Regions from separate parts of the Homo sapiens genome. Here region 2 is linked to region 1. The links come from fine-mapping of genetic effects on gene expression. Tissue or cell type: subcutaneous fat. Region 1 holds a variant in brackets; the other region holds the start of a gene. All regions are shown on one strand. Distances are between the middles of the regions.

What was found. PIP is the estimated chance that this variant, and not a neighbour inherited with it, causes the effect.
Region 2: PPP4R3B starts here. The variant in region 1 is fine-mapped to the expression of PPP4R3B in subcutaneous fat (FUSION, PIP 0.95).

What each region holds. Positions count from the first base shown.
Region 1 is chr2:55,546,133-55,554,241 of GRCh38, reverse strand. It overlaps PPP4R3B (protein phosphatase 4 regulatory subunit 3B), which reads left to right. Exons shown (of 17, transcript NM_001122964.3): 17 at 4,236-6,950. The coding sequence ends at 4,331. Among named protein-coding and RNA genes, the nearest start is that of CFAP36, 30 kb to the right of the region's middle. The variant C/T (reference allele first, on the strand shown) is at 4,585.
Region 2 is chr2:55,614,167-55,622,275 of GRCh38, reverse strand. It overlaps PPP4R3B (protein phosphatase 4 regulatory subunit 3B), which reads left to right and starts at 4,654. Exons shown (of 17, transcript NM_001122964.3): 1 at 4,654-5,132; 2 at 6,770-6,825. The coding sequence starts at 4,991. PPP4R3B-DT (PPP4R3B divergent transcript) reads right to left here and starts at 4,346. Exons shown (of 3, transcript NR_186624.1): 1 at 3,894-4,346. RefSeq lists a silencer at 1,789-1,838 and enhancers at 4,284-4,333, 4,354-4,753, 3,847-4,771, 4,772-5,698.

The DNA.
Region 1 (8,109 bases):
TCTACAAAAATTAGCTGGACATGGTGGCACATGCCTGTGGTCCCAGCTATTCGGGAGGCTGAGGTGGGAGTATCACTTGAGCCCAGCGGGCAGAGGTTGCAATAAGCCGAGATCACATCACTGCACTTTCGAGTCTCTAAGACAATGTCTCAAAAAATAAATATATAAAAATAAAATGGTGTAGCAGCTTTGGAGTACAGTCTGGCGGTTCCCCAAAAAGTCAGAGTACCATATGACCCAGAGTTACCATATGACCCAGCTACCTCATTTCCTAGGTATATATTGTAAGAAAATTGAAAACATGTGTCCACTGTAAAACTTGTATATGAATGTTAATAGCAGTATTTTTCATAATAGCCAAAAAGTAAGAATAACCCAAATGTCTCTCAGCTGATGAATGGATACACAAAATGTAGCATATTCATACAGTGGATATTATTTGGCCATAAAAAAGAATGAAGTCCTGATATGCTAAGCATAGATTAACTTTGAAAACATTGTGGTAATTGAAGTAAACCAGTCACAAAAGACCACATATTGTATGATTCCATTTATATGAACTGTCCAGAATAAGCAAATCCGCAGAAACAAAGTAGGTTAGTGGTTGCCAAGAGCTGGGTGGTGTGGGGGGTGGTGGGGGAATGAGGACTGTTTATGGGGACTTTTTTTGGTGGGTGAAATGGTGGAAATGTTCTGGAATTGGTGGTGATTACGTAACTTGTGAATATACTAAAACCACTGAATTATATGCTCTGAAATGGTGAGTTTATGGTGTGTGAAAATTATACACTTTAAAAACTTGACTTTATGGTATGGACTTAGAGAGTAGTGCCCTGCTTTTTTCGGGAGGTGTTAGTTGTTTGTAGTTCCCCCCATACTCCTGTGAAGCCATCTAATTTTTACAGACAAAGCTAGTCTCTTACACCTTGTAAGTATAAGAATGGTTGTTAGTGTTCTGAGTGCCTACATAGCAAAGCTTATTGTGGGGTAGGCGTGTCTGCTCAGTATACAAAATTTAAATTTATTCTTTCATTTTCAGCCTGGCCTTACCCATGCCCTTTACTTTGCCTAAAGTCATGAAGTATATGGTCCTTTGCTCTGTAAAGTTCATTACATTCTCTATAGAATTTATTCTTTATAGAGTCATTTTCTATGTAGAATTCTCTGTAGTTGGTGATGGTGGAGGAACAGAAATCTCCTGGCTGTCAGAGGTGTAGAATCAATGACCCAGTTGTCTGTTTTACTATAATTAAACTGTTTTCCCTGCTTTCCCCAATATTTTGGTGCCTTTACTGCCTAGCTTCTTTCTGGGGTTTTCTTAAGACAAATCAGTTTCTCGTTTCTGTATCCCTCTGCAAATACTTAGTTCTTGGCTTCTTCCTGTTGTATGACTTGCCTTGCCTCTGATTTCTCTTTTCCAAAAATGCCTTGGCAACTCTAAACTGCTGTTCTCTCTTCTCCTGTTTTCTTTGCTGGTATTCACTTTTTAAATTTCTTACCTAAATACCCTGCAAAAACAACCCAAATGTCCAACCAGAAATTCAGGAATTAAAGTATATGATGAAGCCGAGCATGGTGGCTCGGCTTTGGGAGTCTGAGGTGGGCAGATCACTTGAGGCCAGGAGTTCAAGGCCAGCCTGGCCAACATGGTGAAACCCCATCTCTACTAAAAATACAAAAGTTAGCCAGGCATGGTGGTGCATGCATGTAGCCCAAGCTACTTGGGTGGCTGAGGCACAGGAATCGCTTGCACCCTGGAGACAGAGGTTGCAGTGAACTGAGATCACACAACTGTACTCTAGCTCAGGCGACAGAGCAAGACTCTTAAAAAATATATATATATTCATACCATGGAATGCAAGGGTTTAAAACAATGAAATGGAACTTTATGTACTGACATCGAAAGCTTTTTTTTATATGAACATGATTGTAAAAGAGTAAATATAATTTCAATCTGCTATTTTAAAACAGTACATTTCTAGATACATATTAAAAGTATGGAATCAGCTTCACAAAGTGCATCTCTAGATTACAGGCCTTTTTACTTCCAACATTTCATATTTTGCATTTTTATTATTTTTATTGTAAACATGTTTTAAATGTATGTTAGTTTGCAGAGATAATATAAGTAAAACTCAAATTGTATAAGTGAGTTTTTCAGACAATTTATTAATCTTGGGCAGAAACAATTAAGTGTTAACCATTTGGAATACAAATGTTTGTACGTTATGATATGTAATACTAAGCATAATTAAAACTTTGTAACTTTGCTGTCATCTTTTTGATTATCAGATTGGTGCCTTTTTATACCAGAATTATTTCTTGTTTTTCCTCTCTTCCAATTTGTTTGGCTTAGAAACAAAATAATAGAAAAATGATAGTAGTAATAGCAGCTAATAGCACTTATTGAACACTAACTACATACGAAGCACTGTGCTGAAGTGCTTTAGATGTTTGGTTATCTATTTATTTATTTATTTATTTATTTTTGAGATGGAGTCTTGCTCTTGTTGCCCAGGCTGGAGTGCAGTGGTGCAATCTTGGCTCACTGCAGCCTCTGCCTCCCGGGTTCAAGCAATTCTCCTGCCTCAGCCTCTGAAGCAGCTGGGATTACAGGCATGCGCCACCACTCCTGGCTAATTTTTTTATTTTTAGTAGAGATGGGGTTTCACCATGTTGGTCAGGCTGGACTCCAACTCCTGACCTCAGGTGATCCACCTACCTTGGCCTCCCAAAATGCTAGGATTACAGGCATGAGCCACTGCGCCTGGCCATCAATTTAAATTTCAAAATAGTTCACTGAGGCCTAAATACTACTATACCAATTTTACAGACAAACTGAGGCAGAGGTATTAAACCACTTGCCCAAGGTTTTGTGTTTTTTTTTGTTTTTCTTTTTGTTTTGAGATGGAGTCTTGCTCTGTTGCCCAGGCTAGAGTGCAGTGGTGCAATCTCCACCTCCTGGGTTCAAGAGATGCTCGTCCCTCAGCCTCCCGAGTAGCTGGGACTACAGGTGCCTGCCATCACGCCAGGCTAATTTTTGTATTTTTGGTAGAGATAGGGTTTTGCTATGTTGGCCAGGCTGGTTTTGAACTCATTATCTCTCAGGTGACCCATCCGCCTCGATCTCCCAAAGTGCTGGGATTACAGGCATAAGCCCAGCCCCAAAGTTTTGTTTTTGTTTTTGTTTTTTTTTACATAAAACGTGGTGTCATTAGAATTTGACATCAGACCTACAGTTAGCCTATTTTTAACAATTTAGCCATATTGCTTCTTGCATATCCAGACTTAAGATGTGTGTGTGATTAAGTTGAGAAACAGATTCTCAGACAGGTATATAAGTCTTTCTGATAACTGTTTCTAGCTGCCCAGAGGCCTTTTTTTGGTTGGTTAATATTATACTGATTTGGTTACATTCTGGTAAAACCCGATACCTCAGTACTTCAGGTATGAAGTATGAGTTACTTCAGTTGTATTTGTTTTATCTCCTAGAGGTCTGAAGGGTTTGAACTAAATACAGTGTTTACAGTAGCCCTCTTAACCTATAGGACATAAGTTTTCATGGGATTGGCTCAAAATGAATGAAACCCTGTGGATGTGTAATTTTCTGGAGAGTACCCAGAGTTTTTCTAGGATTTTCACAGAGGTCTGTTACTCATCAAAGGCCAAGACCACGAATTACCTCATCCTTATTGTTCTTTTGGTCAGCGAGCTAGCCCTAAATGTTTTACTTATTATTTTATAGGAATCATTTCATGTGTTTATCTCCAGCCATTTAAGCTGTACTTCAAAAGCACAATGAAAATAATGTGTACTTAGTGATGAAATATACACAAGATGAACAAAGACTACAAGGGGCTTTCTTGTGGTAATGAAATTAGAGAAATGAACCAGTTCATCTCCAATGTCCTTTCCAGCTTCCAAATGTTATTAATTGTTATCCCTACTGTTTGGAAAAGTAGACATTTTCCCACAGTAAAATTTTGCAGAATTGAGTTTTGAAGTATCATTAATAATCCAAGAACCAGATAGAAAAGTTAAGGGTTACTGCAAGTGCTACCAATTACTACTCAAACGTTCATAATTTCAAGCAGTTCCTTTATCAAATTCAAATGTTAATTTCTGATATGATTTAGAAAAACGATTTCTGATATTTTTACAAGTGATTGTATTTGTACTAAAAGCTCTTTTTTGTTATATATGTTTAAAGAAAAAATTTTTAAATTCTTCAATAGGGAAGTTTGGTTGGCTTAGTGGATTATCCAGATGATGAAGAGGAAGATGAAGAAGAAGAATCGTCCCCCAGGAAAAGACCTCGTCTTGGCTCATAAAATATTTATTAGGGGACCCTCAACATGTGGTCTTACAATGCTGCAACTGTTCAGTGAGCTGAAAATCTGAATCAGAAAGCTTTCTCAATTGAACTTATAAAATATACAAGGAGTAGCAAAAGACAGTATATCAGCTAAGAGAGTTTAGTTCTAATAAAAATCAGGCTTCCCAGGAACTTGATTGCTTGCTAGTAATTAAGGGGTTTGCCTTTTAGGCTGTCAAAACAAACATTAGTAACCAGAACCTGGGAGA[C/T]AGCTTCTCAGCAAGGAAAAGTCACAGGTTTGGGGACGGTTTAGGGGAGGGGAAAAGGTTGATATAATAATGCAGGGTTGCTCCTCGGGGTGTCGATCTAGAAACAATTTTACAGAACTTCAGTTGTAAACTCAATAACATTACTTGTATAATGGTGCTGGCCATGTTGTTGTTTTAATCAGTTGCCTCTTTTTAAAAGAAATTTTTATGGAAAACACATTCAACTATCATTAAAAAAATGAAGTTAAGCTGTTGGGACCATTTCTTTAAGATTTAACAAAAGTTCAGCCTTTTAGGTAGTTGAAGGGAAGTACACCCCGTATTCAGCACATGTTGAGTTTTCTACACCAGGAATTTTCAATATGTATATTGATGAAAACAAGCTCAATTCAAACTGGACAGTTTTAAGATAATGTTAAAATCAGCACTTTTAGAGACAACGAAGGCCAAGAATCAGTACAGTAGTATTCCAAAATGATTTTCTCTAGAAATTTGAAAGTAGATCGAACAGAATGTTGTCAACCGCCTACCAGTACAATCTTTTGTGGAAGATACTTTGAAATCACTTTCTACTTTGTTAGTAAAGTTCTGTCTTTCCAGAGCTGCAAGTTTTAAAGTGTTACTTATACAGACCAACCAAGAATAGTGCTGAATTAAGTGGCATTTAGTATCTAGAAGCCATTTTGATCCAAGAAGCTACTTAAGTGTCAAAGTCAGCATGCAGCACATGTAGCTTTTCTGTAAACAAGGGTGTGATATGAAAGCTGCTTTTTTAAGAAGAGTAAAAGCACATTCCATATACGTAAGTGAATTTTAAAAATAAATTGAGGCAAACAGTTAAGTTTTATTTTTAGAGCAACAAGTTAACTGTAAATATTTTAATGTTAGTTTGCTCATCTATGATCTGAGATCATGCCGAAGTGAGAAAAATCTCCCCAAAATACAATTTAATGCATTGGGAAAAAAAAACTTTAACAGTAATTCCAGCCACAATCTTTAGATCACCCTTGTAATGTGTTACGGGTCCATTTTTCCTGGAATCGTTTAATCTAAAGCAGTTTCCCCTGTTTTGGAGATTTTGTAGTTAATTTTAATTTTGGCTATTGTTTGGAAAAGATGAGCTGTCTGTGTAGATATGAAGTATAGTTTTTTCCATAAAACAGATGTTTATTTTGTATTAAAAAATACCACTGTACTTGTTTTACACCATTTGTATACATGTGGTGATATTAATGCTAAACTGTAAAATTCAGGAATTAAAATGTGACCCTGTAATTCCATAATTGATGTTTGTGTTTGGTTTGTTGTAAATATAAATTAACTCCATTTTGAGATATGTCAATTTTACAGTATCTTTTAAAAGCCAATAAAATTATCCATAAATATTTATTATAAACTGCTAGATCATACCCCAATTTTAATGAAATAATTCTAAACAAATGCGGGTCAATGGCACTTTATCAGTGACTACTTATAGAAGGTAAGCCTTGGGGAAATCATAGCATCACAGTATGGAGCTTTTCTCACCTTTTCAATTAAAGGTGTACATATAGTAAGAAAGAAAGACCTTCCACCTCATAAGGCAGGTGACTCAGGATATTTTAAACTAAGATCAGTAAAGTTCCCATCCACTTTCTTTGAATCATCAAATTTTATCGAGACCCATCTCTCAGCTTTTAGTAAATTTCTTCTTAAAATAAGCCCACATGTAAAACACTTTCCTAGTTACTTTTTGTTTGTTTGTTTGAGTCTCGCTCTGTTGCCCAGGCTGGAGTGTAGTTGCACGATTTCGGCTTATTGCAACATCCGCCACCTGGGTTCAAGCAATTCTCTGCCTCAGCCTGAGTAGCTGGGATTACAGGTGCCCGTCACCATGCCAGGCTAATTTTTGTATTTTCAGTAGAGACGGGGTTTCACCATCTTGGCCAGGCTGGTCTTAAACTCCTGACCTCACAATCCACCCGCCTCAGCCTCCCTATCTCTGTATCTTATGAAGACTTCCTTTTTCTTTCTGAAGAGCTGCCATAAGTCTTAAACATTTAAATCATCAGAACCTTTTCTTGTAGCAGAAATGTGAATGTTTTCTTGAAGTACAGGTTACGGTTTTCATGGTACAAGTGCTTACCTACGACGATAAGAGAACAAGGCTTAAAATATCCCTCAAAAGAACAATTGTGAGAATTCCATGTTAGCGGCTGTCTTTAAACGACTACCCTCAGGCAGATCTGGGTTTTTATATCTTTATCTTCATTCAGTGAAGCAAGCCAAAAGCCCACATTTGTATGCCTTAGGTCTTCTTAAAATGGTATCTGTAAACATGTGTCCAATATAAAAACTATTTTTAATAAAAAGTTACATGAAACAGATTTCTGTGTTTTAATCACTAGCATTTCCTCTTAGCCATCTAGTGATGAAAATATAACAAATGTAAATACTGGTTTTCCTGCAGGGGAAAGTTTGGAATTGTGTAACTGAAATGAGTAAATCCTGTTACACTAATTTTGGTATCCTTTTTTAAAAGTTTATAATGGTAGACTTAAGGAGATAAAATGTGATTATAAGTTAAATCTCAGGAGTATCCTGTACTTAGAAAAGGGTGGACGTGGGATATTACAAGACTGGAAGTTTTTTGTTTGTTTGTTTGTTTTTTGGAGATGGAGTCTTGCTCTGTTGTTGCCCAGGCTGGAGTGCAGTGGTGTGATTTCGCTCACTGCAACTTCCACCTCCCAGGTTGAAGCGAGTCTCCAGCCTCAGCCACCCGAGTAGCTGGCATTACAGGCATGCACCACCACGCCCAGCTAATTTTTGTATTTTAGTAGAGATGGGGTTTCACCATGTTGGTCGGGCTGGTCTTGAACTCCTGACCTCAAGTGATCTGCACCCCCTCAGCCTCCCAAAATGTTGGGATTACAGGCATGAGCCACCATGCCTGGCCTTTTTTATTTTATTTTTTTTATATGGAGTCTTGCTCTGTCACCCAGGCTGGAATGCAGTGGCGTGAGCTCGGGTTCAATGCAACCTCCGCCTCCCGGGTTCAAGCGATTCTCCTGCTGCAGCCTTCCAAGTAGCTGGGATTACAGTTACCCGCCACTACACCTGGCTAATTTTTGTATTTTTAGTTGAGACGGAGTTTCACCATGTTGGCCAGGCTGGTCTCCTGACCTCAAGTGATCCTCCTGCGTCGGCCTCCCAAAGTGCTGGGATTACAGGCATGAGCCACCACACCCGGCCTGCAAGTTTCTGAAAGAAAGGTCTCCTATTATTGTGGTTTATCTTTAAACAAACAGACTACAGAAATCTTAGGGTCACTTCTCTTAAACACCAACACCCAGTGGTGGCATCTCCTTCAACAGGCTCAATCGATTATTCCCTTTGCCTGTGTTTTAGTAAGAGTTTGTCTAGAAAGAGTGAGTATTTTTTACATCCCGCACATCTATTTTCCAAGTCCTATTTGCTCCTGCCTCGTATAAGTGTAAATGATAAATGTAAAATCTACCTTACCACTGCCCAAGTTATCTCTACCCT
Region 2 (8,109 bases), 68 kb before region 1:
AAAACAACTTTTGCACAATCATATGTTTGAAATTACGAACCATTGGAAATGACACAAATATACAATAAATGAGTTAAATAAATTAGGGTACATTTGTACAGTTGATGCAGGATTTTTCTTGGCCACTTTGACAGCTGGAGACCTCCGGCCAGCAACACCCCAACTACTCGGCCCACCAGGATGTGTCTGGCTTGTGCTCAGGCACGAATCCTGCAGCCACCATGGCCTCAGCCCCTGGCAGGAGGGGGTGTGTGAGTGAACGAGTACAGGGCAGGAGTGGGCTCTGTGCGGGGCTTGTGGCTGGACCAGGTGTGTCACATTGAGGGAAATGTGGTGGCACCCAAACAGGGGTGCTCATGACCCTGAAGCCCCAGAGGTGTTACAGTATGCTAAGCACTCTTTTAGTTCTGCCGTCTGCAGGCCAACGGACAGTGGCATGTTAACAGCTCTATCAGTCCCATTGCCCCACTCAGGCCCGTGGCTTCAGGACTGGCTCTGCCCCACTGCTGCTTCCCATCGCGTTGTGTGGGACGGTTGCCCTCCACCAGCAGAGGGCAAAGGGCCACAGTGTGTACAGCCTTCTTTGTATCTGCGTTTGGTGGGTCCCGAATTTTTCTTCAGCGTCCAAGAATGAGGTTACGCTGACAATCAAAGGGTGAGGAGGGTGGAGAAGAGTTTTATTTGAACTATGAAACAGCTCTCAGGAGAGAGAGGATGCAAGGGTGGTCCCTCACTCAAAGTCAGGTGGTCTCTCTCTCAGTGCGGCTGAGTCCACAGCTTTTATGGGCTCAGAATGAAGGCGTGCATGCTGATTGGTTTGTGAGTATGCAAAAAAGGCTAAAACAACAGCACCACTCAAAGGTAGGTACAACAGTGTAAAAAAACAATTAGGAAAGGATATGTGTAAAATAGGTGAAGGGTGGGGATCAATCAGAAGAAAGCACGCCAAATGGGAAGAGAGGTTCTCAATCTGGTCTGTGGATTTATCCTGGTCTTGTGGCTAGCCTTTAAACTGTCCTCAGCTTGAAGGGTTTCACCAGGGACCTGCCCCTGTCTGCCTAGGATTTGTCTGCCTTTTGCGGCTATCACAGTGGGATACTATGTAGCCATTAAGTAGAATGAGTTAGCTCTATATACACACTGACCCAAAAAAGGCTGTCCTGGGCACGGTGGCTCACCCCTGTAATCCCAGTATTTTGGGAGGCTGAGGCAGGTGGATCACATGAGGTCAAGAGTTTGAGACCAGCCTCACCAACATGGTGAAACCCCATCTCTACTAAAAATACAAAAATTAGCTGGGCGTGGTGGCGGACACCTATAATCCCAGCTACTCAGGAGGATGAGGCAGGAGAATCGTTAGAATCCGGGAGACGGAGGTTGCAGTGAGCCGAGATGACACCTCTGCACTCCAGCCTGGACTGTGTATGGAAAAAAAGAAAGAAAAAAAAAGTGGGGGACAGGGGTTCAGATATGGTGGCTCACACTTGTAATCCCAGCACTTTGGGAGGTCAAAGCAGGCAGATCCCTTAAGCTCAGGAGTGTGAGACCAGCCTGGGCACCAACATGTAGAGACCCTGTCTCCACAAAAAATAAAAAGGAAGGAAAAGAATAGTATTCCATTACAGTCATGTGTCCCTTAACAATGGGGATGCTTTCTGAAAAATGCATCATCAGGTGATTTTTTGTTGTGTGAACATCATAGAGTGTACCTAAACAAACCTAGATGGTAGCCTACTACAGAGGTCCCCAACCTTTTTGACACCAGGGACTGGTTTTGTGGAAGACAATTTTTCCATGGAAAGGGGGAGTTGGATTCTCATAAGGAGTGCACAGGTTAGATCCCTTGCATGTGCAGTTTACAATAGGGTTCTCACTCCTACCAGAATGTAATGCCCCTGCTCATCTGACAGGGGGCAGAGCTCAGGCCGAAATGCTGGCTCCCCTGCCACTCACCTTCTGCTGTGCCGCCCAGTTCCTAACAGGCCCTGGACCACTACTGGACCACTACATACATATCTACATATAATTACCTGTATATGCATAGAATATCTCTGGAATAGGACTAGATACATACTTTGTGGGCCCAGTGCAAAATAAAACCGCAGGGCCCTTGTCCAGAAACTTTCCTGAATTTCAAGTTAGTGACAGCAAAACATTAAACCAAGTGCCTATCTGTACAGGTCACCACCATGAAGCCAGCCCTGCTCTGGCAACATACACAGGAAAATGGAATAGAGGTGATTCCAAGAGGAAAATTCTATGAGTGGCAGGAGACAAAGACTAAAAGAAGACTTAGTTTTCACTATATATCTTTGCCTTTTTTTTTTTTTTTTTTTTTGAGACAGTCTGTCACACTGTCCCCCAGGCTGGAGTGCAGTGGTGCAATCTTGGCTCACTGCAACCTCTGCCTCCCAGGTTGAAGCGATTCTCCTACCTCGGCCTCCCAAGTAGCTGGGATTACAGGCCCCCACCACCACGCCCAGCTGATTTTTGTATTTTTAGCAGAGACAGGGTTTCACCACGTTGGCCTGGCTGGTCTGGATCTCCTGACCTCGGGCAATCTGCCCACCTCGCCCTCCCAAAGTGCTGGGATTACAGGCGTGAGCCACCATGCCCGGCCTCTCTTTTTAATTTCATATGTGTAAAGGCATTACTTATTCAAAACAACAAAAAAGGAAGATTGTGGGCTTATTTGGTTAGCAACTCTTTGAAGTGGAACTTTGATGACTGCCTGAAGCAAAGAACATCTGCTGGGGAAGATGTGGTTATGGGGGGCCCTCAGACTTGGATAAGCACTGAGCCCTGTGCTTTGGAGGGGTCTGAAATCCATGGAATCATGGGACTGTAGCCACCTGCAGCCCACTTTCCCTTTTCCAGACCATGCTGTGGGCACTCTAGTATTCCCTATCCCAAACGCCAAGCCTGACTCCAGGGTCTGCACAATCCTCTTCCCAAGTTCAGTCTTCCTGGGGAGTAACCAAAGGGTGAGGCTTGGACAGAAGGCTGGAGAGTCTAACATCAGGCTCAAAAATTGTGTGAAGCATTCTCTGACTCTTCCAAGACAGAAATGTTATTTTCTCTGAGGTCAAAATACATTTTGTCCACTTTCATCACATCAATTAATTGGCTCTATTGTTATGTATTATATTATGATGATTTTCTTCAAGTACATTTTCTGAGGTCTCTAGATTAAAAAAAAAAACTATGAATCCAGATTTTGAAATTATTTCTATCAGCATGTGTTCTGTACACTGACCCACGTTGTAGTGTACTGCTGAAGGGTGTCCACACTTAAGCGATCTGGTCAAAACATAAGCACGTTTTAACAAGACCATTGATTAGTTATGACTACAACTCCCAAGATGCACTGCAGGGTCAGTGTGCGCGTCTCGCCTAGTTTTCACCGATCAGGCTAATGAGCTGCACAGAAGTGGCAGCTGAACAAGCTGAGAGACTGTATTAAAGAACGAATATAGCGGGGATGGGGAGCAGGCGTCTACGGTCCCAGCTACTCGGGAGGCTGAGGTGAGAGGATCGCTTGAGCCCTCAAGGCGGAGGCTACAGTGAGTCGAGATAGCGCCATTGCACTCTAGCCTGGGAAGCAGAGAGAGACTATCAAAAACAACAAAACGAATAAAGGGATTCTACCAAGAGTGAGCTGGACTGAAATAAACGACACGCTACTACGACCCAGCGCGTGACTATATCCACCGCACAATGTGCGATAATAGCCTCAATGCAGAGAGAATTCCTCCTTTCCTTATTCAGTGCAAGAGAGCCCTATAGAGAACGCAGGAAATGCCCGCGAGAAACTGAGAAGTATCAAAACAATCACAGATATGTTAGGAAAGTAGCTCCCCGCCACTTCCCTAAACTTATCATAGCAGACTTACTTTCCAAGGTTACAAACACAAGAAGAGCACTGTATTTTCATGAAGCGGAAAATGTGCTTTACAATCGCCAGCTACTAAGAGCCTTAACGGTGAAGCGCTCTGCAAGAAACAGGAAATCGTCAACACACTTTCTGCATGAATTGCCTGGAGAGTTGTGTCCATAGACAATTCCTGGTTAGATGCTTAATTGTAGCAGACTCCATAACGGGGTTTAGCGGGTTTCCATTCGGCAGAAAGGGCTCCACGTTCTTTTTCACAGAAAGGTTTAAACTTATTTTTCCTCCTCAGGCGGACGAAGTGAGCGTCGTTCCGTGAAGGTATGAAACCCTTTTCCTTCCTTTCTGTCCCTGGTTACTCCGGTTCAAGGCTACGTACTTCCCCGGTTTGCTTTGTTTTTTCCTCAGAGCTAAGTTCCTAGGAACGTCACATACTGGTGCCATCCAACAACATGACGACGTGCGGAACCGAAGTCCCCTTCCACCTAGCGGCCTCTCGCGGCGCAGGCGTGGACGGGGAGATCGCGAGAACCTCCCGCCCAATTGCGACCCCGCGCCAAGAGGCGGGGCCGAAAGAGGAGGAAGTCGGGCCGAAAGAGGAGGAAGTCTCGCCGAAGTACTCCCGCCCCAGTCGGTACCCCTCCTCGCGAGAGCGCCGAGCATTCCGGCCTGGGAAGCGCGTGCAGAAGCGGAGGTGCTGCTCATGGGACTTGTCGGCCGCCGTAGCCCCTGCTAGGACAGCCCGTGCGAGCCTGCTGGAGGAGGAAGAGAAAGGCAGAGAGAGTCGGGTTACAAGATGGCGGATCTGTAGTAGTTACCGCGGCGGCGGGAGAGCAAGCGAGCCCTGGGGGGCAAAGAGACGGGAGAGTGGGTGTATGCGCGGGTGAAGTGAGAGGTAACGGGGCCTCCGGGCGGAGAGGCCTCAGTGGCTCTTGTCACCCCTTCTCGCGGCTGAACCTTTGGAGCCATGGTGAATTCGGGCCTCTCCGAAGCCGCCGCCGCCGCCACCGCCACTACTGCCTTTACCGTCTCCTAAGAGTGAGGAGCGCGGACGAGGTAAGCGAGGAGGCGGCGGCTAGAGCGGTGGAGACAGCAGCCACCATGTCGGATACGCGGCGGCGAGTGAAGGTCTATACCCTGAACGAAGACCGGCAATGGGACGACCGAGGCACCGGGCACGTCTCCTCCACTTACGTGGAGGAGCTCAAGGGGATGTCGCTGCTGGTTCGGGCAGAGTCCGACGGTAAGGTTATCGGAACTGTAGAATAGGGGATAGTGCCTCTGGTTGGGGCACAGCTTGGGTTTAGGGCCCTGGGCCCGTTACCGTTGCTACTCCTTCGGGACAGCGCGTTGGTTCTGAACTGGCTCTTGTGTACGGCAAAAACAAAGTACTGTACTTTTGACTGGACTTATCCTCGGAGACCGAGACTCTCTGTCCTTCTCCCATCTCTCTTAAGGATTGGACTCCTTCCTTTCCAGTCCCTCCTCTTTTGAAGAGGGGAGAGTGTGAGAGAGAAGGGAGGAAGTAGTGAGAGACTAGGTACTGATGTCGCCCTAGGAGCTGACACCTTCCTCCCCCTTTATTTACTTATCCATTATACGTCTAGTACAAACGGTTTAGGGAAACTTTTCTTTCCGAGTGTTTTTAAAAAAAAAAAATTGTACCAACGGGCCCCAGGTGCCACAGTCGACAGGTGCTGGGGAAAACCGAAAGGCACGTTTTCCTGGCTGTATTGCTGACTGTTGCCACGATACATGGACACACAAGCACATACATCTGTAGTCTGCATTTCTTCGGGCTGCCTTTGTAGAAGGCGCTATGAGAAAGTGAATGCCTTACAATCTAAGCAAGTTGGGACACCAAAGCAGGTTGTAAACTGCTGTGTTCTTTGGTTTATTGTAGTCATGTGAAGTATTTTAAATTACAAAATGTAGAGCCGTAATTAAAATGCCTTTTATAGTATAATCTGGACTTGATTTGAACAACTGATATAGGCAGTTAGAAAAATAATCTTAGGTTTAGTCTTGACATATTTTGTATTCTTGCTTGTTCCCTTTTATTTTAAATAGTCATCACTTCTACAGAAGGTGTTCTTTTGTTCTTAATGAGGAAAGGATAAATGCAGCACTGTAATTTCTATACTAAGTATTTAATCCCTGTCATGATGTTTTTGTTTTGTAATTTGCATTATTTGTTAAACTGGGAATGCAATAAAACAACTTTTGTTAAAACGAATGGCTTGAAGTGGTCATTTAGACCTTAAAATTTTTATTTCAATAAAATTTTAATAGTCATCTAGTCTCCTCATTCCTTGGTTTGATTGTTGGTTTTAGATTAATTTTTCCTTTAAGGGTGTATGGGAATAGGGTGAAATATTTTAGATTAAATGTGAAGCCTAGATTTGGAGAGAAAATGTGAATTCGAATACATTTTATTAAGATGTCCAACTCGGTAAAAAGACTTGAAAAGTTTGCGGGGGCGGGGGGCGGGGTTTAAATGTGTATTTTTTTTTTTTTTTTTTTTTTTTTGGAGACAGAGTCTTGCTCTGTTGCCAGGCTGGAGTTCAATGGCGCGATCTGGGCTACTGCAACCTCTGCCTCCTCTCCCTCTCTCTCAAGCGATTCTCCTGCCCCACCCTCCCGTGTACCTGGGACTACAGGCATGCGCCACCACGCCCAGCTAATTTTTGTATTTTTAGTAGAGACGGTTTCACCATGTTGGCTGGAATGGTCTGGATCTCTTGACCTCGTGATCTGCCCGCCTCCCAAAGTGCTAGGATTACAGACGTGAGCCACTGCGCCCGGCTTTAATGTGTATTCTAATTTTTATTCAGGGTTTTATCATTTGAGACTTATGATGTATTATTTTTTATCTTTCAGGATCACTACTCTTGGAATCAAAGATAAATCCAAATACTGCATATCAGAAACAACAGGCAAGTAGTTGTTTATCTTTAATTTGAAAGACTTCATCTGTGATCAAGGAAGTATTAATCTGACAAAGGTGGGAAAGCTTTCCTGACAAGAAAAAAACATGTTTGGTAAACAAAGATCATGTGTATTTCTCTTGCAGGTTAAAAGTTTCAGACTGAAAAAAAGTTTTTGTACTGGTGATAATTATCATTTTTGGATTGAGCCACTGTCGGTTTATTCTAAGATGTATTTATTAGTATTATTTAACTGTAGTTAGCCAAGTCTCTTCTATACCTTGTACATGAAACCTTTTATTCTGAGTCACGTTTAAAGGAAATGACATAGAACAAAATTCAAAGGGATACTCTTAAAGCAAGGAAAGCCTGTTTGTGGTGTGAAATTAAATCCTTTGACTCAAGTAAAGGTAGAGGTTTTGAAGTAGAAGCATTAAATCCTGCTCTTTAATTGTTGTGTATTTTTAATATAGTAATCAATGGATACTTTATAAAAATGTACATTACCAAGTATGTAACATCTTCTGTTAATATTGTCTTATTTGGGAAAGAAAATGTGTATTGTATTTTAGCACGCCTGATTAATCTGAAAATGGTAGCAGTGATTCAATCTTTTTTATTCTGTGAATGTTTTTGTTTTTATTATGAAATATATTAAAATTGAAAAGTACAGAGAATAATCGGTGTCTACTGTAACACCACCAGATTTAACAATGTTAATGTTACGCCATATTTGTTTCAAATATTTTTGTAATATTGAACATTATGGATAGAGTTAAAGCTTGTTTGTATCCATCCCGTTGTTTACATTCTCCATCCCCTACATAGGTAACCACTATTCTGAAGTTGATGTGTATTCTTTGTGTACATGCTTTTATACCTTTTCTGCATATGTATGTATCCATAAATAATATGTAGTCTGTTGTGTGTTTTTAAACTTTACACAGTGGATGTCATACTCTTACATGTATTCTGCAGCTTGCATTTTTCACACATTCATTTTGAATATTCGTTCATGTTAACAATGTAGATCTAGTTTTCTTTTTAAACTCTGTATAGTATTCTTATGTATGACATACACTTGTTGTTATACATTTGAATTATTTCCAGGTATTCTTTTTTGTGTGTGGTATGTAAAGTCACGATGGCAGAGATTTTTGAAGGAAGATAAATTATTTTAGGATTACATTTACAGCGTCAGTGCCCACTTCAAGGTTTATGAAAATTTGGATGCCCAGAAACAAGTACTTCGTAGTTGGAGGAATAAAATTCTGTCTGTTGTGCAGCTTATTA